Linked DNA regions of Homo sapiens: regions 1, 3, 4, 5, 6 and 7 are each reported to be linked to region 2. Evidence: microRNA targets listed by miRTarBase, many of them from high-throughput screens and not tested one by one. Region 2 holds a microRNA gene; each other region holds the end of a gene's coding sequence. Distances are between the middles of the regions.
The links. Region 2 holds the annotated microRNA hsa-miR-371a-5p (ACUCAAACUGUGGGGGCACU, at 1,066-1,085, shown strand). A microRNA usually pairs through its seed, bases 2 to 8, with sites in the 3' UTR of a target mRNA and lowers its output. Matches are read on the target gene's strand: a 7mer-m8 pairs with bases 2 to 8, a 7mer-A1 pairs with bases 2 to 7 and ends in A, and an 8mer does both.

Region 1: the mRNA of ZFP14 is a reported target of hsa-miR-371a-5p. Seed matches in the 3' UTR shown: 7mer-A1 at 2,699-2,705, 7mer-A1 at 1,169-1,175 and 8mer at 742-749.
Region 3: the mRNA of GMEB1 is a reported target of hsa-miR-371a-5p. Seed matches in the 3' UTR shown: 8mer at 983-990, 7mer-A1 at 1,312-1,318, 7mer-m8 at 1,478-1,484 and 7mer-A1 at 2,797-2,803.
Region 4: the mRNA of PXMP4 is a reported target of hsa-miR-371a-5p. Seed matches in the 3' UTR shown: 7mer-m8 at 1,636-1,642 and 7mer-A1 at 2,669-2,675.
Region 5: miRTarBase lists SGSM1 as a target of hsa-miR-371a-5p. Seed matches in the 3' UTR shown: 7mer-A1 at 1,311-1,317 and 7mer-A1 at 1,501-1,507.
Region 6: miRTarBase lists TMEM65 as a target of hsa-miR-371a-5p. The part of its 3' UTR that is shown has no 7-base or 8-base seed match.
Region 7: the mRNA of POFUT4 is a reported target of hsa-miR-371a-5p. The part of its 3' UTR that is shown has no 7-base or 8-base seed match.

The regions. Positions count from the first base shown.
Region 1 is chr19:36,337,466-36,340,465 of GRCh38, forward strand. It overlaps ZFP14 (ZFP14 zinc finger protein), which reads right to left. Exons shown (of 5, transcript NM_020917.3): 5 at 1-3,000. The coding sequence ends at 2,759. Among named protein-coding and RNA genes, the nearest start is that of LINC00665, 7.2 kb to the left of the region's middle.
Region 2 is chr19:53,786,615-53,789,729 of GRCh38, forward strand. MIR371A (microRNA 371a) reads left to right here and starts at 1,061; the gene lies at 1,061-1,127. MIR371B (microRNA 371b) reads right to left here and starts at 1,128; the gene lies at 1,063-1,128. It overlaps MIR372 (microRNA 372), which reads left to right and starts at 1,276; the gene lies at 1,276-1,342. MIR373 (microRNA 373) reads left to right here and starts at 2,091; the gene lies at 2,091-2,159. It also overlaps LOC124904767.
Region 3 is chr1:28,714,409-28,717,523 of GRCh38, forward strand. It overlaps GMEB1 (glucocorticoid modulatory element binding protein 1), which reads left to right. Exons shown (of 10, transcript NM_001319674.2): 10 at 1-3,115. The coding sequence ends at 365. Among named protein-coding and RNA genes, the nearest start is that of YTHDF2, 21 kb to the right of the region's middle.
Region 4 is chr20:33,705,276-33,708,275 of GRCh38, reverse strand. PXMP4 (peroxisomal membrane protein 4) reads left to right here. Exons shown (of 4, transcript NM_007238.5): 4 at 307-3,000. The coding sequence ends at 570. Among named protein-coding and RNA genes, the nearest start is that of PXMP4, 14 kb to the left of the region's middle.
Region 5 is chr22:24,923,652-24,926,766 of GRCh38, forward strand. It overlaps SGSM1 (small G protein signaling modulator 1), which reads left to right. Exons shown (of 25, transcript NM_001098497.3): 25 at 535-3,115. The coding sequence ends at 623. Among named protein-coding and RNA genes, the nearest start is that of LHFPL7, 21 kb to the right of the region's middle.
Region 6 is chr8:124,311,163-124,314,277 of GRCh38, reverse strand. TMEM65 (transmembrane protein 65) reads left to right here. Exons shown (of 7, transcript NM_194291.3): 7 at 217-3,115. The coding sequence ends at 318. Among named protein-coding and RNA genes, the nearest start is that of TMEM65, 60 kb to the left of the region's middle.
Region 7 is chr10:73,775,349-73,778,449 of GRCh38, forward strand. POFUT4 (protein O-fucosyltransferase 4) reads left to right here. Exons shown (of 3, transcript NM_173540.3): 3 at 193-871. The coding sequence ends at 337. Among named protein-coding and RNA genes, the nearest start is that of POFUT4, 4.6 kb to the left of the region's middle.

The sequences.
Region 1 (3,000 bases), 17 Mb from region 2:
ATTTACATAGTATTTACATTGTGATAGGTATAAGTGATCTAAAGATAATTTAAAGTATACAGGAAGATGTGAGTAGGTAATATGCAAATACATACTATGCCATTTTATACAAGGGACTTGAGCATCCTCAGATTTTACCATCAGTGGAGGATCCTGGAACCAATTCCCCATGGATACCAAGGGATGACCATATACTGTTCATCTAGTCCCTGTCTGCTTTCAGTTCATTATTCCAGCAATAAGGCTTTGTAGATGGTGGTGTGGACTTCCTATTGCATTACGTCAGGAAGTGTGTTGTCTGATAGACCCATTTTTATTAAGGTTAAAACAGATCAAAGGGTTCAGAGGTGGCCAGTTTGATAGATCCACCATAAAAATCTCGCTATAAAATATTTCACCTATTAGTTGTAGTACCCATTGAAGATCATGTTTTCTGGACCCATTATTCCATTAAGGTCTAGAAAATGGTGATTTTTCTAATCCTCTAATTCCTTCTAGATTTATTAGACTTCTTCAAAAAAGAAAAACCCATTCAAAAAACAAATTTTTTTTTTGAGACAGGGTCTCACTCTGTCACCCAGGCTGGAGTGCAGTGGCACGATCTCAGCTCACTGCAAACTCTGCCTCTTGGGTTCAAGTGATCCTCCCACCTCAGCCTGGGACTACAGGTGTGTGCCACCATGCCTGGCTAAATTTTGTATTTTTAGTACAGACAGGGTTTCACCATGTTAACCAGGTTGGTCTCAAACTCCTGGCCTCAAGTGATCCACCCACCTTGTCCTCCCAAAGTGCTGGGATTACAGGTGTGACCCCTGTGCCAGGCCAAATTCATTTGAATTTGATGAACTTCTGGTGACCCTGAAATTTGGTTCACATGGGAAAAGGAAACTAAATGACAATTTTTCCTCTGATTTATTGATTTCAAGAATAATGAGTTGGGCTGGGTGTGGTGGCTCATACCTGTAACCCCAGCACCTTTGGAGGCCAAGGAGGGAGGATCACTTGAGCCCAGAAGTTCAAGACCAGCCTGGGCAACATAGTGAGACCCTTTCTCTAAAAAAAAAAAAAAAATTTAGGTGGAAGAATCACTTGAGCCCAGGAGGAACAGGGTACAGTGAACTGTGCTTGTACCACTGCACTCCAGCCTGGGGGACAAAGTGACACCCTGTCTCAAAAAAATTATACATTGGTGCTCTAGCATCTTTCATAGGTTACCAAATTATGCAGCCACAATCAAGTAAACTATCAAATTATTGGTGGGATCACATCAAAAACTCAACTTGAAACAACTCCTACTGGTTGAAGATATGGCATTTTGAGCATCCAAAAGTATACTGACTTATAGAATGATGTTTTGTTTCTTTCCCACAGGAGTTTTATACACACACATAAATATACACAACAATATTAAATTCCTAGGTGGTTAATTTCTTTTAAGCCACATTTTTGATAGTTTCTAATTAATTTTAAACTGTGGTCAGACAACAGGGATTGTAAGCCTTTTGCTTTCTGGAATTATGGGAAAATCATTTCCTATTTCCCTCTAATTCTTCAACAGCTGTATTACTAGTGACCTCACATTCATGAAATTCATTTTTGGCATGAAATTTCTAATGCAGCTCAAGTGCTGAAGAACTTCCTACATTCACTACAATCTAAATTTTACCTAGAATAAATTATGTTTAATAATTTCTGAGAGGTGACAGGAGGCATTTCTACATTTATTATGTCTACAGATCTTCCTTTTACGTGAATTCACTAATACTAATGACAATAATAACAATTACAGATAATATTTACAGAATACATGCTATATGACTGTGATTCCTCCAAGTATTAACTACTTACTCCTTGCAACAATCCTATTCCACAGTGTGGCAGGCTGACTCTAAACAGGCCCCCCAGTGGTCCTGTCTCCAGGACTTATTCACACTCTTGTATCATCCCGTTCTCTTGAGTGTGGACTATCCTAGTAACTTACTTCTACCAGTAGAAGGTGAGGGAATGTTACTTCCATGATTAGATTACACAAGATGGTAACTTCCATCTTGCTAGCAGACTGTCCTCCCTTTTGGCTTGCATGCCTTGATGAAGCAAGCAGCCATGTTGATGAGGCTATTGTGGCCAGGAGCTGCAGTCAGCGTTCAGCCAACAGCCAGCTAGAAACTGAGAATCTCAATGCAACAGGCCTCACGGAAATACATTGGGTAACAACTATGTTAGTCTGGATGTGGATCCTTCCCCAGTTGAGCCTTCAGATGAGACCTCAGCCCTGGCTGAAATCTGTAGCCTTGCAAGAGACCCTGAAGCAGAGGACCCAACTAAGTCATGCCTATACTCCTGATCCAAATTATAAGATATAATTATATGTTATTTTATGCTACTAAGTCTGTGGTAATTTATTACGCAGCAATAAATAACTAATACATATAAGTACTATTATTACCATTTTACAAGTCAGCAAAATGAGGCACAGAAGCTTAGTATCTTGTCCAATAAATCAAACTGGTAATCAAGTGGAGAAAGGGAGATAATGACAGATAAGGCTAAAGATTTTCCTACATTCATTACATTATTCTCTCATAGGAATTTGCTGAAGATAAACCATGTTTAAATGGTGTTGGAAGGCTTTTAAATCAACATATTCTTTCTCTAATATAAAATTTATTATGCTTGGAATTGAGCATGAAACACATTTTCTCAAAAATGAATTTTCTGATGTTCTGTAACATCATATACATTTGAAGGCTTTCTTCTATTAAATTCCATTATGAATCTTCTGATGCTGAGTAAGGTGTGAATGCTGTCTAAAGGCCTTCTTACACTCCTTACACTTGTAGGGCTTCTCACCAGTATGAATTCTCTGGTGTTGAGTAAGAAATGAATAAAGTCTAAAAGCCTTACCACATTCCTTACATTCATAAGGTTTCTCACCAGTGTGAATACTCTGATGTTGGGTAAGTTGTGAGAGCAGTCTAAAAGGTTTTCTACATTCCTTAC
Region 2 (3,115 bases):
AGTGCTGGGATTACAGGTGTGAGCCACTGCGCTCTGCCAAAATACTATATTTAAATATTTGTTGAGTGGATGACTGGTGGAATGATTTTCTTCTGGTTATTTCTCTGTGTTTTCCAATGTATTTATAACGAATACATGTTGGCGTTACTAGTAATAGGGATCACCTAATTTCTATTTGAATCAGTGTTTGAAAAAGTTTATGAAGGTGTGTCTGACTAAGGCAAGCTAGGATCAAAGGGAGCAGGGTGGCTTGGGGCGGAGACCAGGGGGAATGAGAGGGTGGGAAGGGGTGGGCTTTAATCCTATCAAAGTTGAGTGGGCTCTCACCCTATATAAGAACGCAGCTGCAGTGAACCTTGTTCTTTCTGGCAGACCTGAGGTGTGGACGTATCATTGGCCTCTGTGAGTATTGCTATGTTATTTTATTTTCTTTCATTTTACTTTATTTTTTAGGGTCAGGATCTCACTGTCGCCCAGGATGAAGTGCACAGGTAGGATGATGGCGCCTTGCAGCCTCGACCTCCTGGGACTCACCCTTTTAGCCTCCAGTAGCTGGGACCACAGGCGCGCACCACCATTCCCATGTGCGTTTTTCTGCTTTTTTTTTTTTTTTTTTAGGAGAGATGGGGTTTTCTATGTTATCCAAGCTGGTCTCGAACTCCTGGGCTCAAGAGCAATCCTACCACCGTAGCCTTCCGAGTAGCTGGGACTACAGGCTTGAGCCACTCCGCCCAGCCGGGCTGTACTTTTGTTCTATTTCTGTGATTTTTTTTCAGTCTTAAGGACGAAGGCCCCACTGTCCCTCACACGTGTTCCTTCCTACTTGCATTGTACTCAGTCCTCATGGCTTGCATCTGGAGGCTATGGGCGGGGGAGTGCTTTGAATATCTATACGTGGAAAGCCTTGTTTTTTACTTTTTAAGAAAGGGTCGTTAAATTCGTGCTTTGTAGACCTTCAACAGCTCATCAAGGGCTACTCTCCACCTCCTTGCTTAAAAGCCTCTTCTGATGGGTAAGTGCTTCCACTTGCGATCGCCGCCTTGCCGCATCCCCTCAGCCTGTGGCACTCAAACTGTGGGGGCACTTTCTGCTCTCTGGTGAAAGTGCCGCCATCTTTTGAGTGTTACCGCTTGAGAAGACTCAACCTGCGGAGAAGATACCATTTTGATTGGGTGAGGGGGCGGGTAGCAGGATGGCCCTAGACCCTGCCTATGGCCGTTTCCTCGTGATATAAATTTCTTGGCCGGGGCTCTTGCAGATGGAGCTGCTCACCCTGTGGGCCTCAAATGTGGAGCACTATTCTGATGTCCAAGTGGAAAGTGCTGCGACATTTGAGCGTCACCGGTGACGCCCATATCAACGGATGCCGTGGAGCTCGGTCTTCTGCAGGAACTAAAGAGCCTGTGGTTTCGATTCCCAGCCGGAAACTGTCTTGGGTACAGGTCCCTTACAGCGTCTGGCTGTAATGGCTCCGGAAAACCTGGGGAAGGGAAGGGGGCCTCCTGGGCTCTCACCTGACACAACTAAGGGAATCTGGGTTAGATGGTGAAAGGAAGAGAAGGTTCAGAGGGCGGCTGTGCGCCTGCGCCGGGCGCGGCGGCTCACACCTGTAATCCCAGCACGTTGGGAGGCCGAGGCAGGCGGATCACGAGGTCAGGAGATCGAGACCATCCTGGCTAACACGGTGAAACCCCGTCTCTACTAAAAATACAAAAAATGAGCCGGGCGTGGTGGCGGGCGCCTGTAGTCCCAGCTACTTGGGAGGCTGAGGCAGGAGAATGGCGTGAACCCGGGAGGCGGAGTTTGCAGTGAGCCGAGATCGCGCCACCGCACTCCAGCCTGGGCGACAGAGCAAGACTCATTCTCAAAGAAAAAAAAAAAAAAAAACAGCAGCTGTGACCAAGGGGCTGTATGCACAAAGAAAGGAATGCTTTTTGCTGTTGGTGTTATAATTGATATGTAACTTTCCTCTTCCCCCATAGCAAGCAAGTTTATTGCTGACATTTAACATGTGCTTGGATGATTGGAGGCCAACCTCTTGTAGGCAAGAAAGTCACAGTGATGGCAGATCCTCGCGAGGAGCTCATACTGGGATACTCAAAATGGGGGCGCTTTCCTTTTTGTCTGTACTGGGAAGTGCTTCGATTTTGGGGTGTCCCTGTTTGAGTAGGGCATCACGAACCATCCTGCTTCAAGGGAGCCTGCGGGTCTGACTGCAGCTTCAGCTATGACCTGGAGTTCCCGGGCTTCTCTGCGGGGCACCAGTCTGTATGCTCCATTTTAGATAATAAAAATTGGCATATTCTGGGGTGGGCAGGATACGGGGTTCACCTGCAGATGAACAGGGCAGGAAAAGCTTGATGGGGTGTCGGGGGAATCTGGTTGGCCTTAAAGGGAATTTGGGGTCCTGTTCCTGAATTTGGTAGGCAGCATGCATGTAAGGCTTGAAGTGGGTTTGGCCAGAGCATGGGCTGGAGTGCTTCCACCCTGCTACACGGACAATGCCACAGTCTCACTTTTCCTAACTTTTTTTTTTAATAAAATGTGAACAACATCATGTGTTTCTGGTCTATTGGGTTCCTCTGCCACCCACAAGTGCTGGGATTACAGGCATGAGCCTCATGTCTGGCGTTACTGAACCTTCTTCTATGACCCAAGTACATTGCCTAAAAATACTTGTCAGTATTTTGTGCTTCCCTTCTACCCCTGCTAGAACTTAGAGTTATGCTCTTTGAGAGTTCTGCTCTTTAAACTTCAAACAAGTTTAAAAAGTAAGGCCGGGCACAGTGGCAGCACTGCCGAGGCCGACGCAGGCTGATCATGAGGTCAGATCAAGACCATCCTGGCTCACACGGTGAAACCACATCTCTACTAAAAAATACAAAAACATTAGCCGGGCATGGCGGTGGGTGCCTGTAGTCACAGGCTGAGGCAGAAAGGGCATGAACCCGGGAGGTGGAGCTTGCAGCCAGCCGAGGTTGTGCCACTGCACTCCAGCCTGGGTGACAGCGATAACTGTCTCAAAAAATAAAAACCACCCAGGCTGAAGTGTGGTGGCACCATCACAGCTCCCTGCAGGCCTGAGCTCCCTAGATCAAAAGATCTTCCCATATAA
Region 3 (3,115 bases), not on the chromosome of region 2:
CCTCTGCCAAGAGCAGCTCACCAGACACAGTGACCATCCACCCTTCATCTAGCTTGGCGCTGCTGAGCTCTACTGCCATGCAGGATGGGAGTACACTGGGCAACATGACCACCATGGTTAGCCCTGTGGAATTGGTGGCCATGGAGTCCGGCCTAACCTCGGCAATTCAGGCTGTTGAAAGCACCTCAGAGGATGGGCAGACCATCATTGAGATTGATCCAGCCCCGGACCCAGAAGCTGAAGATACTGAGGGCAAAGCAGTCATCTTGGAGACAGAGCTGAGGACTGAGGAGAAAGTTGTGGCTGAGATGGAAGAACACCAGCATCAAGTTCACAATGTGGAGATTGTGGTCTTAGAGGATTAACTGGGGATCTCAGGGCCAGGAGTTATGTTTTGATTTGGAATTTTAATTATTTGTTTATTTTTATCATTGTCCCACTCATTTCCACATAGGACCCTTTTTTAAAAAAAAAAAAACAAAATCTTATTGTTGTAACTGAAAATGTTGGGTTCTTCCCACTCCCTCATTGAAAAATGGACAAAACAAGCTGCCCTTCCAGAAGTTGAGAGTAGGTCATTCAATGTCCTAATCATCTTACACCAAGAAAGTAATTTCTTTTAGGGGAAGTGTCAAGATAACAAGTAACCCTGTCCAGAAAGCCATTTCCAGGCTCGTCTGTGTGTGTAGGCATGTGGTTTTATTCTTGTAAAGATGCATTGACCAAACTCTGGAACACAGATCTGACACTGGAAGGCAACCCACTCGCATGTGGATGCTGAAGGGCACTTTATTTTGTATCCTGAAAAGGGCCTACAGAGGCCAGTACAAAACTCTCAAACAAAAGGAAGTTGACTCTGCTTTGAGGGGAAGGTGGCATGCCAGCACTAGCTTAAAAAGGGAAGTGCTAGCCGGGCGTGGTGGCTCACGCCTGCAATCCCAGCACTTTGGGAGGCCGAGGCGGGTGGATCACGAGGTCAGGAGTTTGAGACCAGCCTGGCCAACATGGTGAAACCCCGTATCTACTAAAAATACGAAAAAAAAATTAGCCGGGTGTGGTGGCGGGAGCCTGTAATCCCAGCTATTCAGGAGGCCAAGGCAGGAGAATCGCTTGAACCTGGGAAGGCAGAGGTTGCAGTGAGCCAAGATCGCACCACTGCACTCCAGCCTGGGCAACAAGAGCGAGACTCCATCTCAAAAAAAAAAAAAAAAAAAAGTGCTTTGGCAAGTATGGGGCAGGGAAATCATCTTACTTCCAGAGGTGCAACTGACGCCTCTGGAGATCTCCAAAAGTTAGTACCGTGAGTGCCATTTTGAGAAGAAGGTGGTAATAAGTGGAAGGTACATCTCCACAGAGCAAGTGGCAGCAGTGGCCTGTGGTTTTGCAGAAATGGAAAGCCAAGGCCGGGTGCGGTGGCTCATGCCTGTAATCCCAGCACTTTGGGAGGCCGAGGTGGGTGAATCACCTGAGGTCAGGAGTTTGAGGCCAGCCTGGCCAACATGGTGAAACCCCGTCTCTACTGAAAATACAAAAAAAAAAAATTAGCTGGGCATGGTGGCACGCGCCTGTAATCCCAGCTACTTGGGAGGCTGAGGCAGGAGAATTGCTTGAACCTGGGAGGCGGAGGTTGCAGTGAGCTGAGATCATGCCATTGCACTCTAGCCTGGGCGAGGAGTGAAACTCCGTCTCAAAAAAAAAGAAAGAAATGGAAAGCCAAGGATGCTGCAGCTGTGCTTTGGGGTTCAAGGTAATAGCTTACCTTGTTCCACACTTTGTCAAAGCACTCACCCTCCTAAGCTAGGACCAGTCCATTCATTTGAAACTGTGCAATGTGATGTAAATGGCTCTGGTTCTTAGACTGTGGCTGTCACAGGGATGGGGCTCCAAGGCCATCATTTTCATTGCATGGCTCCAAGAGCAGGGAGTTCCTCAATGAAACCAGCTGCCTTTTTTGGTGGGGCCATTTTTTTGGCTTTGGAACCCAAAGCAGCCACTCATTTGGTGCTTCCTCTTGTTCTGCCCTCCATCCCTCAACTCTTAATGGCATCTGTCTCCTAGAACCCACGCTCTTCAGCTTTTTGGCTGATTTGGAGAACAGTGACAGGTGCCTGCCTGCCTTCGTCCCCTTTTAGATTCATTTATACCACAGATGTTTCTGTGAGATACTGAGATCATAAAAAGCTTTAGGCTTGGCAGAGAGGACTCAACACCCCCAGGCTTTCCTGAGGCACCAACTAGATGTCTCTTGAGTGAGCTGGACTCCCTGGGAAAGAAGCATTGTCTGCAACATTATATTATAGGAAATGTACCAGGAATGTCAATAATAATGCTTTGGGGGGGGGGGTTATTTTGTTTTGTTTTGTTTTTAATGTTGTTTGTATATTTAGAGCTGGGCCATTTTCCGTGCTGCGATTTCTTCTCTTTGACCCTCTTCAGTGTTTGGGGCAAGAGTGGACCCTGGTTTTTATTTCTTTGATTGCATTGTTTACTGCACTAGGAAAAATATAGAGATACAGGGAAACTACAGACAAATTTAAGGAAAAATAGGTCAAAAAAGAAAGCACACACCTTAAGAGTGGGAGGAATATTTTTATTAAAAACAAAACTTGGACCTGTAGTTTTTTTTTTTCTTTTTTATTTTTAAGAAGGCACCTTTCAGAAGCCATGTTTCTTCCAACAGATGTTGGAAACCCCATCGAGCAAGTAAAAGTTGCATTCTCCATCCCTCAGATGGCTGTATGTAGTCAAAGAAACCCTGTAACATGGTAAGGTTGCTGTTTTTTTTTTTTTTTTCTTTTTGAGATGGAGTCTTGCTCTGTAGCCCAGGCTGGAGTGCAATGGTGTGATCTCAGCTCACTGCAACCTCCGCCTCCTTGGTTCAAGTGATTCTCCTGCCTCAGCCTCCTGAGTAGCTGGGATTACAGGCTCCCACCACCACGCCCGGGTAATTTTTGTATTTTTAGTAGAGACGGGGTTTTGCCATGTTGGCCAGGCTGGTCTTGAACTCCTGACCTCAAGCGATCCGCCCGCCTTGGCCTCCCAAAGTGTTGGGATTACAGGCATGAGCCACCGCACCCAGCCTGAAGGTGACTCTTAAGAATGAGATTTATGAACT
Region 4 (3,000 bases), not on the chromosome of region 2:
GGTGGAGGTTGCAGTGAGCCGAGATCCAGTAAGCCCACTCTCTCTAGCCTAGCCGACAGAGCCAGATTCTGTCTCAGAAAAAAAAAAAAAAAATTAGTACAGAAATCAATGAAATTGCAAACAGGAAATCAATAGAGAAAAGGACCTAAACCAAAAGTTGATTCTTTGAAGAGATAATTAAAATAAATAAACCCCTAGCCAGGCTCTCTAAGAAAAAAAGAGAAATGAAACAAATTATTAATATCAAAAACAAAAGAGGGACATCACTATTGATCACCAGTAATTCCCATCATTCCCTCTTTGCAGATCAACATGTACCTGTTGTCACGCGTCCTGTTTGCCCTGAGCCGCCTGGCTGTAGAGAAGGGCTACATCCCTGAACCCAGGTGGGACCCGTTCCCGCTGCTCACTGCGGTGGTGTGGGGGCTGGTGCTGTGGCTCTTTGAGTATCACCGATCCACCCTGCAGCCCTCGCTGCAGTCCTCCATGACCTACCTCTATGAGGACAGCAATGTATGGCACGACATCTCAGACTTCCTCGTCTATAACAAGAGCCGTCCCTCCAATTAATGCAGCCCTGAGGTGTCTGGCTGTGGCTCAAGATTTGGCCCCATGCAGACCCTCCCAAAGGATACTGCCTTCTCAAGATCATAGGCCTCAGACTCCAACTGGTGTTATCCCAGGGTTCCGTTTGCTGAAGTAAAAACACTGATTTTAAAATCCCAGTGGGTACCTTTGTATGGTGGCACAAGTGGCCGAATCAGGCTGAGGAATCTACGGCTTGGTTCCAGCTGTGCAGCTGACTTCTGTGAGACTGGGGCCAGCCACACTACTCTCTAGGCCTCAGGGGTCAAGGAGCTCAGAGGAGGGCCCTGAGGTCTCTTTCCGGTGGGTATGTTCATTCTTCAACTGTTCTTATGTCACAGAGGGCTCCTTGCTGGTGGGCAGTGGGTTGTAAATACTTTTTAAAAAACACTAAGTTCCTTATCTCAGATGCTGTTCTACTGGAGAAGTTCTAGATTCCCACTGTCCAATAGAAACACGTGAGCCATATATGTAATTAAAATGTTTCTAGTAGCTGCATTACAAAAAAGAAGCCTGGGCACTGTGGCTCACTCCTGTAATCTCAGAACTTTGGGAGGCTGAGGCAGGTGGATCACTTGAGCTCAGGAGCTTGAGACCAGCCTGGGCAACATGGTGAAACCCAGTTTCTACAAAAAATACAAAAAATTAGCCGGGTTCCATCACCTGTGGTTCCAGCTGAGGTGGGAGGATCACTTGAGCCTATGAGGTCGAGGCTACAGTGAGCAAAGATCACGCCACTGCACTCCAGCCTGGGCGACAGTGAGACCCTGTCTCACCAAAGAAAAAAAAAAGGTGAGATTAATCTTCACTATATATTTTAACACAAATTTCTAAAAGTTATTTCAACATATAATTAACATCATTAGATATTTTGTACTCTTTTTTGTATTAAGTATTCAAAATTGGGTGTATATTTTGCCACCCACATTTTCAGGACCCAGTAGCCACATGTGGCTAGTGGCTGCTGTGACGGGCAACACAGATATGGAACACTTGTATCCTCACAGATTATTCTAGTGGACAGTGCAGATCTAGAGCTAGAGGACATGGGTTTGAGTCCCCACTCCCCCACTGTGTAACCTTGGGGAAGGTTCTGGACCTCTCAGAGCCTCAATTTATCATAAAATGAGGATAATCATAATGCCGTGGTCCTCACTGGACTTGTGCAACTACCACTGATGTGCTACTAATTACTTTCATTTAGTGCATTCATACTTCCACTTGGGTGTTTTCCACATATTATTATTATTTTTTTTTTTTAAGTAGCGACAGGGTCTCGCTCTGTCACTAGGGCTAGTCTCGACCTCCTAGCCTCAAGCAATCTTCCTGCCTCAGTCTCCCAAAGTGCCATGATTACAGGCATGAGCCACTGCCCCTAGCCTGCACATATTATTTTTAAACCATACAGTGGCCTTGCAAATGTGTGTTTTCGTCCCCATTTTACAGATGTAGAAACTGAGGGTCAGGCCAGGTGCAGTGGCTCACGCCTGTAATCCCAGCACTTTGGGAGGCTGAGGCAGGCAGATAACCTGAGATCAGGAGTTCTTGACCAGCCTGGCCAACATGGTAAAACCCCATCTCTACTAAAAATACAAAAATTAGCCAGGCATGGTGGCACGTCCCTGTAATCCCAGCTACTGGGGAGGCTGAGGCAGGAGAATCGCTTGAACCTGGGAGGCAGAGGCTGCAGTGAGCTGAGATCGCACGACTGCACTCCAGCCTGGGCCACAGAGCGAGACTGTGTCTAAAAAAAAAATAAAAAAAGAAAAGAAAAGAAACTGAGAATCAGAGAGGAGAGTAACTTGCCCAAGGTAATACAGCTAGTATAACAGCCGAATCAAGATTTGAACTCAGATTCGTCTGATTTCAAAGCCCATGTTTTTTCCAGTGCCTTGTTTCAAATTTAGAAACCTAAGCCATGCTATGCAAATGTTAGCTCATTATAGGATATGGGCCAGAAAGGGGTACACATTCAAATGCCCATAGGGGCCTACAATGACATAGTGCTATGCGATGAGGAGTGATGGGGACATAGGGAACTGGAGACTTGTGTACCAGTCTGATTTTTTCTTTTTTTTTTTTTTTTGAGACAGAGTCTTGCTCTCTCGCCCAGGCTGGAGTGCAGTGGCGCGATCTTGGCTCACTGCAAGCTCTGCCTCCCAGGTTTACTTACACCATTCTCCTGCCTCAGCCTCCGGAGTAGCTGGGCCTACAGGTGCCCGCCACCACACCCGGCTAATTTTTTGTATTTTTAGTAGAGATGGGGTTTCACCGTGTTAGCCAGGATGGTCTCAATCTCCTGACCTCATGATCCACCCACCTTGGCCTCCCAAAATGCTGGGATTACAGGTGTGAGCCACCATGCCTGGCCAAGTCTGCTTTTTTCGAAACCACGATCCTAGACCAGGCACGGTG
Region 5 (3,115 bases), not on the chromosome of region 2:
CGCTCTTGTTGCCCAGGCTGGAGTGCAGTGGTGCAATCTCGGCTCACCACAAGCTCCGCCTCCTGGGTTCAAGCGATTCTTCTGCCTCAGCCTCCTGAGTAGCTGGGATTACAGGCATGCGCCACCACACCCGACTAGTTTTGTATTTTTAGTAGAGACAGGGTTTCTCCATGTTAGTCAGGCTGGTCTCAAACTCCCGACCTCAGGTGATCCACCTGCCTCGGCCTCCCAAGGTGCTGGGATTACAGCCATGAGCCACCATGCCCGGCCGACCTCACCTTTTTATGGCACATCCTGTGAACCAGCATTATCCCATTCAATCCGCACAGTAACTTGGTGAGGTGGCTGCTGTTCCAATCCCCATTTTACAGATGAGGAAACTAAGGTCCAGAGGTAGAGGCCTTCTCCAGGGCCTCTGCTTCCTGAGTCAATCTGTGATGGAGATGCCCCCAGAGAAGCCTCCAGGGGCTGGAATTGTACCCTAAGACTGGACACAGAAGGAGGCTCATGAGATTTTTCTTTCTGCTCTTTCAGAAATGGCTGAGCGACACAACACCAAGCAAGTCCTGAAGCTGGCGCGGGACCTCGTGTACAAGGTGCAGACTCTGATTGAGAACAAGTGAGGGGCACCTCACCCCGGCAGCCTCAGCCAAGCTGCCCCTGCCCCGCTCCTCTGCTTACTTTTCCTCCTGGCTGGATGGGCACCCCGGGAGCGGGGTCCTGGTGTCTGTTCACAAGCGTGGAGTTCAGTGCGCAAAGAAACTACCCTGACTTTTACTTCTGGGCAGATGGGGTGGAGGGAGTACCCCTTCAATTCAGCCTTACATTTTCCTGTTTGACCAAAGATTGCCCAAGTCTGGCGTTCCTCCCTTGCAGGAGGTGGAGGTTGTTGGTGGAGGAGGAGCCATCTTTGTTTGCTGGTGCCCGGAATGGTCTCCTCTTCTTCTTTCCCTATCCCTCCAAACTGTCTTGTAAGATGAGACCTGGGGAGGAAACTTCTTTTTGGAAATTGGTGTAGAAGAGGTGTGTGGGGCTACCTCTATGCTCCTCTGCAAGGGGCCTTTGGCGATGTTCTGGACATGGCTGAAGATTGACTTAGAGATTGACCCTCCACCTCGACATTACTGACATTTGGGGCCAGGTGATTCTTTTTGAGGGGACTGTCCCCTGCATTGTAGGATGCTGAGCAGCATCCCGGGCCTCACCAGATGCCAGTAGTGCCATCCCCCAACCATACCCCTGGTTGTGACAGCCCCCAAAAATGTCTCTAGACATTGCGAAATGTTCCCTGCAGGGCAAAATTGCCCCCATTTGAGAACCACTGGCTTGGAGAAGGGACTACAAATGTACTTCCTCCCCCATTCTTTTGACGCTAAGCCACCCTGGTCCTGACGCCTCCCCTCACTTAGAAAAGGCATACAGGAGGCCGGGCATGGTGGCTCACACCTGTAATCCCAGCACTTTGGGAGGCTAAGGTGGGCGGATCACAAGGTCAGGAGTTTTGAGACCAGCCTGGCCAACATGGTGAAACCCCATCTCTACTAAAAATACAAAAATTAGCTGGGTGTGGTGGCGGGTGCCTGTAATCCCAGCTACTTGGGAGGCTGAGGCAGGAGAATCACTTGAACCTGGGAGGTGGAGGTTGCAGTGAGTTGAGATCACGCCACTGCACTCCAGCCCGGGCGACAGTTCAAGACTCCATCTCAAAAAAAAAAAGAAAAGGCACACAAGAGTCCCTCACACATCTCTCTTGGAGTCTGGGATTCCATCTGTTGTATTTTCTCCTTTTTTCTCCTCTGTCTGATGCCAGAAGATACTTGTTTTCTTCTTTTCAAGAAAAGTATCTCCCCACATAGGCGGTGGACCCAAAAAGTGTAGGCATGAGACGGTCAGAGCTCTTTGGGGTCCTGCTCAGAGTCCCCCAGGCAGGGCAGAGTCTGTATCCTGCTGCCATCTTGCAAGGGAAAACCGCCTCTCCTTCCAAGTATTGGGTCTTGGAAAGGTGTGTGTTTGGTGAAAGCCACTTAATGGTGGTGGGGTGCAGCTTTTCTCTAAGTGCAGTTACTCACTCAGGACAAAGGAGGAAAAGGAAGGCAGAGGTCAGCCAGGGTAGAGGGTGATGTCTGTTTTCCTTGGGAAACATCTGCTGATGAACTGGGTCCAGGGCCGTGCTAGGTCTGGGAACAATCCTCTCCAGGTCTTCACACAGAGTATCACCAATCCACAAACAGACCCGAAGTGAACTAGTTTACTCTGCCTACCTGTCCTTTCAATAGAGCAGTCTTTCCCGCTCTTCTGTTCTGAGAATGCACCCGGAATGGGGGAAACCCAGCAAGCAGCAGAGAGAAAGGCTCTTCCCGGGAGACCTGCCGCCTCTAGGGTGGTCAGAGAATAGCAGCTGGGATTTTGGAGAGGGAGAGGATAGGTAAAGCAGCGTATTGAAGCATTTGCGGAGGGGTGTATTAGTCCTCCCACCCTGAGCACACCAGGACGGGGATGCATCCTTGCCTTGTGTGCTTGTAAAGGCTTCTTTCCCTTGGTATAGCAACTTCAACTGCACCTGAACCTCCAACCTCTGCCCAGCCTCTGGTGCAGGGTGGATAGAGGTCTAGCCAGCCCTTACTTCCTGAAGAGAGCTCTGTGGGAAACTCGAGGCTACAGTAGCTTCCCGGCTCCCAGCTCCTACCCTACCCCCACCAAAGCAGAAACGGGAGACGGCAACGTTCTGGCTGCCATTAGACTTACGTCTCCCTCCCCTACGTCCCCTAGCTTCCCAAGACAGGAAGAAATGTGCAAAAGGCCCCTCCGGAGAAAACTATTTTGCCGTTCAGCTGTTCTTTACAGAGGATGTTATTTTAGTGAGACCCAGGTCCTAGACCTTCTGATTCCTATTTATTTTTTTAACAGACTAGTCTCAAAGTACAGCACAAAATCTCTTCTCTGCCTTCTCTTGTGATGTTCCAGAGAGCATCTGTGGTTGTGATTTGGAATAAGTCATATTTATTTGGTTTACTGTGCCTATTCAGATCTCTGTATGTTGTGTGTGTTTCTGTGTCCTGGAATTGGATGCGTGGGACTCGTTCTGTCCGCGGAGTGCACTCTTTTTTTCAGTGTG
Region 6 (3,115 bases), not on the chromosome of region 2:
ATGCAGGGGTACGGATTGAGGAAGAAAACAAAGCTATGTTTACATAATGATTATATCTACATATAATTAGGTATACACAGGGATAAATATTGAAGAGGAATATATATGAAGGGTAGCAAATCCAAATATATTGAGAAGAGCTGGTGAGATTTTTTCTCTGCCTTCTTGTTATCAGAGATAAAGTAACTTTAAAAATGTTCTCTTTTGTTTCCTTAGGGCAAAGCTGTTGGGGTGACTATTGGCTGCATTCTAGGAATGTTTCCTTTAATTTTCTTTGGAGGAGGTGAAGAAGATGAAAAACTGGAAACGAAAAGTTAATCCTCTTAGAATACCTATAAAAAGATGTAAACTAATGTACCTCAGTAATTAAATATGCTGTCACAACATTTAGGAATTAAGACAGTAACAGTATAGATATGGGATCAAATAATTTAGCATGTATTATGGAAAACACTAACTTATTGTGGCTTGATCTTCTTAGGACATCTTTTTTAAAAAGCTGTTTAGTATCATTTTGTGTATATTGTTGAAATGCTTTTTCATCAATAGCAGTCAACATTTTATCCTTTCTTTTTATATTCATAATGTTATTTAAGTGTCATTGATGTACTGTATTGACTTGGGGTTTGCTTATTTGTTACTTAACATGTGTACATGCATGAAAGCATTTTTCGTTGTTCCCTGATAGTTACATTTCAACCTTGGGATTTTTCCAAATTACTTAAGATGTTTAATGTCAGTTAAAGATTTTTTTACCCTCTTTTTGGGAACATCAATTTTGTACTGTTATGCAGTAAACATTTATAATAATATAATTTCAGTCATTTCTTAACTGTCACATCTATTGAAAATGGATATAGATACAGGTTTTAAGTATTTTAAGTATATATTACTTATTTTAATTTTCTGACTTTACTATTTTAAGGGCCAGAGGGTTAATCACAAAGAGCAATTATGTGGTCTCCCTGCTACATGAAACCGTGTATACTAACAAGCGTACAATTTTTAGTTGATTTTTTTTAACCTTTTAGTTTCCCAGTTTTGAATAATTACATGGTGGATTCTGACTTTTGAGGGGAAGCAAATGATTATTTTAGAGTCTTTGAAATGGGGATTGTGGAATTAGATTGAACTAAGGGATTTAACATGATGCTTGGAAATTAAGAGACTAAAGCTTTTTTTAAAAAAAGGTGGAAAATAGGAACTGTCAAGAAGGTTTATGGTATAAATGATGAAGTTGAAGTGATGTTTGAAAGATTAATGAGATACAATTTATATTATTTGGTAAGGTTTTTTTTTTTCCCTCCAAAGATGTCATCTTCTCATCTGAATGGAATAAGTCTGAATACCCCATATTCATACTCCTAATCTCATTATATCTTATTTAGTGAATTTTATTTATGAATAATTTCTGTTGAAGTGAAAACTAGATATTTAATATTTTGCTTTTTTGCTACATAGTCTACTCAAAAATTACATGAGGAGAAATCCTTTTTCCCTTTGTTTTTCTTTTTTCTTCTTTTGTGGTATTTAAAGCATATTTTAGGTTGAAGTTACTTATTTCTAGTCTTGTACTTCTGGCTTAAGTATAACCATGTAAGAATTATAAATTTTAGTTTTCTGAACCCTTAAACTTTTTTAGCATGTGGTCTGTTACACATGCTAAAAAATTAGTCTTACTTGTAACAGCGTAATTAAACACATCATGGAGGAGAGAAACTTAAAATTAAAATAGTATTTTGGCTTTTGAAGTTATTTGTGTTGCTAAATAGATGCAGAGGTTTTACAGCAGTTTATTTTAAGGTTTTATTTATACATAATTACTTTGAACTCTTCAGAGTAGATATTTTTTCACAAGGCAGTTTGTCATAAATTCTCTCATGCGCTTCAGAATGCATAAGTGCCATCCTTTAATCATAGACTTTGAGGAGAGAAAGCATAAAAATATAGCATATAATCTAAAAATAAATATATAACATGCACAAATAATGTGACATTCTTACTGAATCAAATCATGATTCTAGAACTTGAGATCTTAAATAGAATTTCGGTTTGTATCTTCCATATAATAACCACACACAGATAACCACACAAAAAATCCTTTGTAAAATTTCTGATTGATAGGATTAGAGTGCTTAAATTTTTGGGGGGGGAAGGGTGGGGTAAAGTGTAAGTGCTTTCTTTTGTCCCTAACTTGTGTATTGATGGCAGTCCACTCTGTTTTCTAAAAATGTATTTTACTGTGGTGCTTAACTTCTTATTAATTAAATCCCGTATCAGAAACCTTGCCTGTGACTTTAGAAAGGGCTTTTGATTATTGTTTTTTCTTCTTGCTCTTGAAAGTAATCTGGTCCCAGGGAATTACTGGTTTAACTGAACATCTCCAGAATTATTTAAGGTGTCAAAATATATAACCTTCACATTGAAAGATAATTTTAATTTATGGGCATAATAAAAATTTGAATCATTCAGGTAATTTTCAAAAAATGGAGACCATTTGTCTTTAACTGAAGGTATATGTTTAAGATCATAGTCTACCCTAGTATGGTGCTTTGCCACAAAGTGATTTCTGAAGAATGGTTCTTTTTAAGATAATGACTTCATATGATCATTGTTTCATGTTACTTGCCACAAATAACTTTAATTTAGGTTGAAACTGGAACTGTTTGTTTCTCATATTAGCTACTTCTCTATTAGGAGCACAAGAACCATAGTTAAATGCAACATGAGCTACTTTAGTCCTGTTTGTTTAAATTTGTGTTGTCCATGTATTATGATTTATTAACTTGTTGATGCATGTAAATTGGGTGCATTTTGTTGCCATGTATGTTAAATGGTGACCAATGTTTTTACAAAGGAATTGAACAAAAAAAGTATCTTTTAAGAAATTTGGAATGTGGTTTTGATTTTGAAATTTGATTTCTTACTAATCTCAGAGGGCCTTGGTATATTCTGTTACTAAAGCAAACAGGATTAATGAATACGGATTTGTTACAAGGTGGCAGCAATGTCACTGAGATAGTGAATGGAACAATTTACCACCTCCCTGGAATCTGCACCTGAGATACAACATCAGCGTATGAGTGAAGAGTGAGCCCATAGAAAAGCTTTAGAT
Region 7 (3,101 bases), not on the chromosome of region 2:
TGTGTTTGTGACTTACTGCCTGTCGCTTGGGCTTATATTGGATTTACTTCACTTTGTCTTCCTTTCACAGCAGTCTTGTCCAAGTTAGAGACCACTGTATCTGCTTAAGATTTCTTTGGCCCCACTCGGAAAAAGGCAGGACTCATAACTATGCTGCAGTTCCATAATCCAACCCCCATTTTGATATTTCAGTTGGAAAGAGATGTGGCTGCAAGATTATTGGCAAGGTCTGGACCAGGGGGAAGCTCTCACTGCCATGATCCACAACAATGAAACAGAGCAGACGAAATTTTGGGATTACCTACATGAAATCTTCATGAAGAGGCAACATCTCTAAGTGCCCTTGCAAGAGCCTTTAACTTGGCGGAGCTAAGGAGATCTTATTCTACCATGGGACATAAGGAGCATCCACTGCACAAACCCTTAATGAACACTGTCTTTTCATGGATTCAAGGAATTCCAGTTTTATCTATTAAGATTTTATCTTAATGATGAGTAGCCAAGGTCTAACATAGGGCCTCTCCTCAAGGAGAGATGGAGGGATACAATTCTTGGTTCAGTGGGAAACAGAACCCTAAAACATCCATTTGATTCAAGGTGCTGGTCCAACAGAGTTTTTAAACTACTCACTTCTTTATTTCATCCTTTCGACTGTACTTGATTACCAGTGAAGTAAGATGGGTCAGGTTACGACTTACAACTTTTGTTCTATTCCCCAGACTCCTCATTATTCAGTACATTTCCCAATAATCTCTTTTTCTCATCTCTTGCTTTATAAATTGTTACGTTGGTGGAGAAGCAAAACATTTGGTGAGTTGTATTCTGGTTTTCCGGAGTTGGATTTTTTTATATTATATACTTTCATGTCAAACTTCTATTTTACTTATTTATTTATTTTTTTAAAATATTTTTTGTAGAGATGAGGTTTTGCCACATTGCCCAGGTTGGTCTCCAACTCCTGGATCAAGCAATCCATCCGCCTTGACCTCCCAGAGTGCTGGGTTTACAGGCATCAGCCACCTCACCCAGCCCTAATTTTTTTTTTTTTTTTGGCTTTTTCTGGCCAGGCGTAGTGGCTTATGCCTGTAATCCCAACACTTTGGGAGGCCGAGGAGAGGCGACTGCTTGAAGCCAGGAGTTTGAGACCATCCTAGCAAGACCTTGTCTCTAAAAAATAAAAGAATTAGCAGGGCATGGTGGTGCACACCTGTAGCCCTAGATACTTGGGAGGTTGAGGCAGGAGGATCACTTGAGTCCAGGAATTTAAGGCTGCAATGAGCTATGATCATGATCACTGCACTCCAGCCTGGGTGACAGAGCGAGACACCGTCTCAAATTATATATATATATTAAGATGGAGTCTTGCTTTGTCACCAGCTGGAGTGCAGTGGCATGATCTCGGGTCACTGCAACCTCCACCTCCCTGGTTCAAGCGATTCTCCTGCCTCAGCCTCCTGAGTAGCTGGGACTACAGGCATGCACCACCACGCCCAGCTAATTTTTTGTATTTCTAGTAGAGACAGGGTTTCGCCATGTTGGCAAGGATAGTCTCGATTTCTTGACTTCGTGATCCGCCCGCCTTGGCCTCCCAAAGTGCTGGGATTACAGGTGTCAGCCACCGCACCCGGCCTCAAATACATTTTTTTAATGGCCTTGTCTTTCCTGGTTTTAGGCCCTTTTCCACAATTTCTGATGGAAATACAGAAACCTTGCCATCATTCTTACTGCTGGTTTGCATCTCATTTATGGTGTATCTGGGATTTCTTCTCATGAACAGAAAGATTCAGTGGCTGTTATATGCCTTGTCAATTTAATGTATTGCCCTATCCTCTTTTTGATCAAAGATAGAGACTAAGACTGGGAATTATGACAGAAAAAGTCATATTTTTCTTTAAATGATTTTGAAATGTTAAAATAGGCCAATATGAGTCAAAGTGCAAATTTTTTGGTGAGTAGGTTGACAAAAAAAAAAAAAAATCCAGGAAAAAAAGTGCAAATTTTTATAGGTCCTAATTCTTTTGTTTGCCTAATGAAGTGTTCCCTCTATTTTATTGTTTTTATATGCTACAAAGTCCCATCTTCTGCAGTTATGGAAACAGTGTGGCTGTATGTTTTAGTAATTATTTCATAATCTGTAGCACTTTTCACTTTAAGTGCAATGAATAGTCCAGCTTCATTCACTGTATTACTAATACGCTTCCCTATGACTTTTTTTTTTTTTTTGAGATGGAGTTTCGCTCTTGTTGCCCAGGCTGGAGTGCAGTGGCGCGATCTCAGCTTACTAGAATCTCTGCATTCCCAGTTCAAGTGATTCTCCTGCCTCAGCCTCCCTAGTAGTGGGGATTACAGGCGCCCGTCACCACATCTAGCTAATTTTTGTATTTTTAGTAGAGATGGGGTTTCACCATGTTGGCCAGTCTGGTGTCGAACTCCTGAGCTCAGGTGATTCACTTGCCTTGGCCTCCCAAAGTCCTGGGATTACAGGCGTGAGCCACCGTGCCCAGGTGCCCCCACCTTTTTTTTTTTTTTGAGGCAGAGTCTCACTCCATCACCAAGGCTAGAGTGCAGTGGCGTGATTTTGGCTCACTGCAGCCTCTGCCTCCCAGGTTCAAGCAATTCTCGTGTCTCAGCCTCCAGAGTGGTGGGATTACAGGCACGCACTACCATGCCTGGCTAATTTTTTTGTATTTGTTTTAGTAGAAACAGGGTTTTGCCATGTTGGCCAGGCTGGTCTCGGACTCCTGACCTCAAGTGACCCACCCGCCTCGGCCTCCCAAAGTGCTGGGATTACAGGAGTGAGCCCCGTGCCCAGCCTGAGACTACTTTTTGATGGAGCCCACTCAAGGGGATGAGGAGGTTTAAGCCACAAGTGGCTGGCTAAATAAAAGCTTAGTCAGAGCTGGGCACGGTGGCTCACACCTGTAATCCCAGCTACTTGGGAGGCTGAGGCAGGAGAATTGCTTGAACCTGGGAGGCAGAGGTTGCAGTGAGCTGAGATCGCACCATTGCACTCCAGCCTGGGTGACGAGCGAAACTCCATCCCAAAAAAAAAAAAAAAAAAAAAGCTTAGTCAGATTTGGGGATGCAGCCAAACCCTTCTG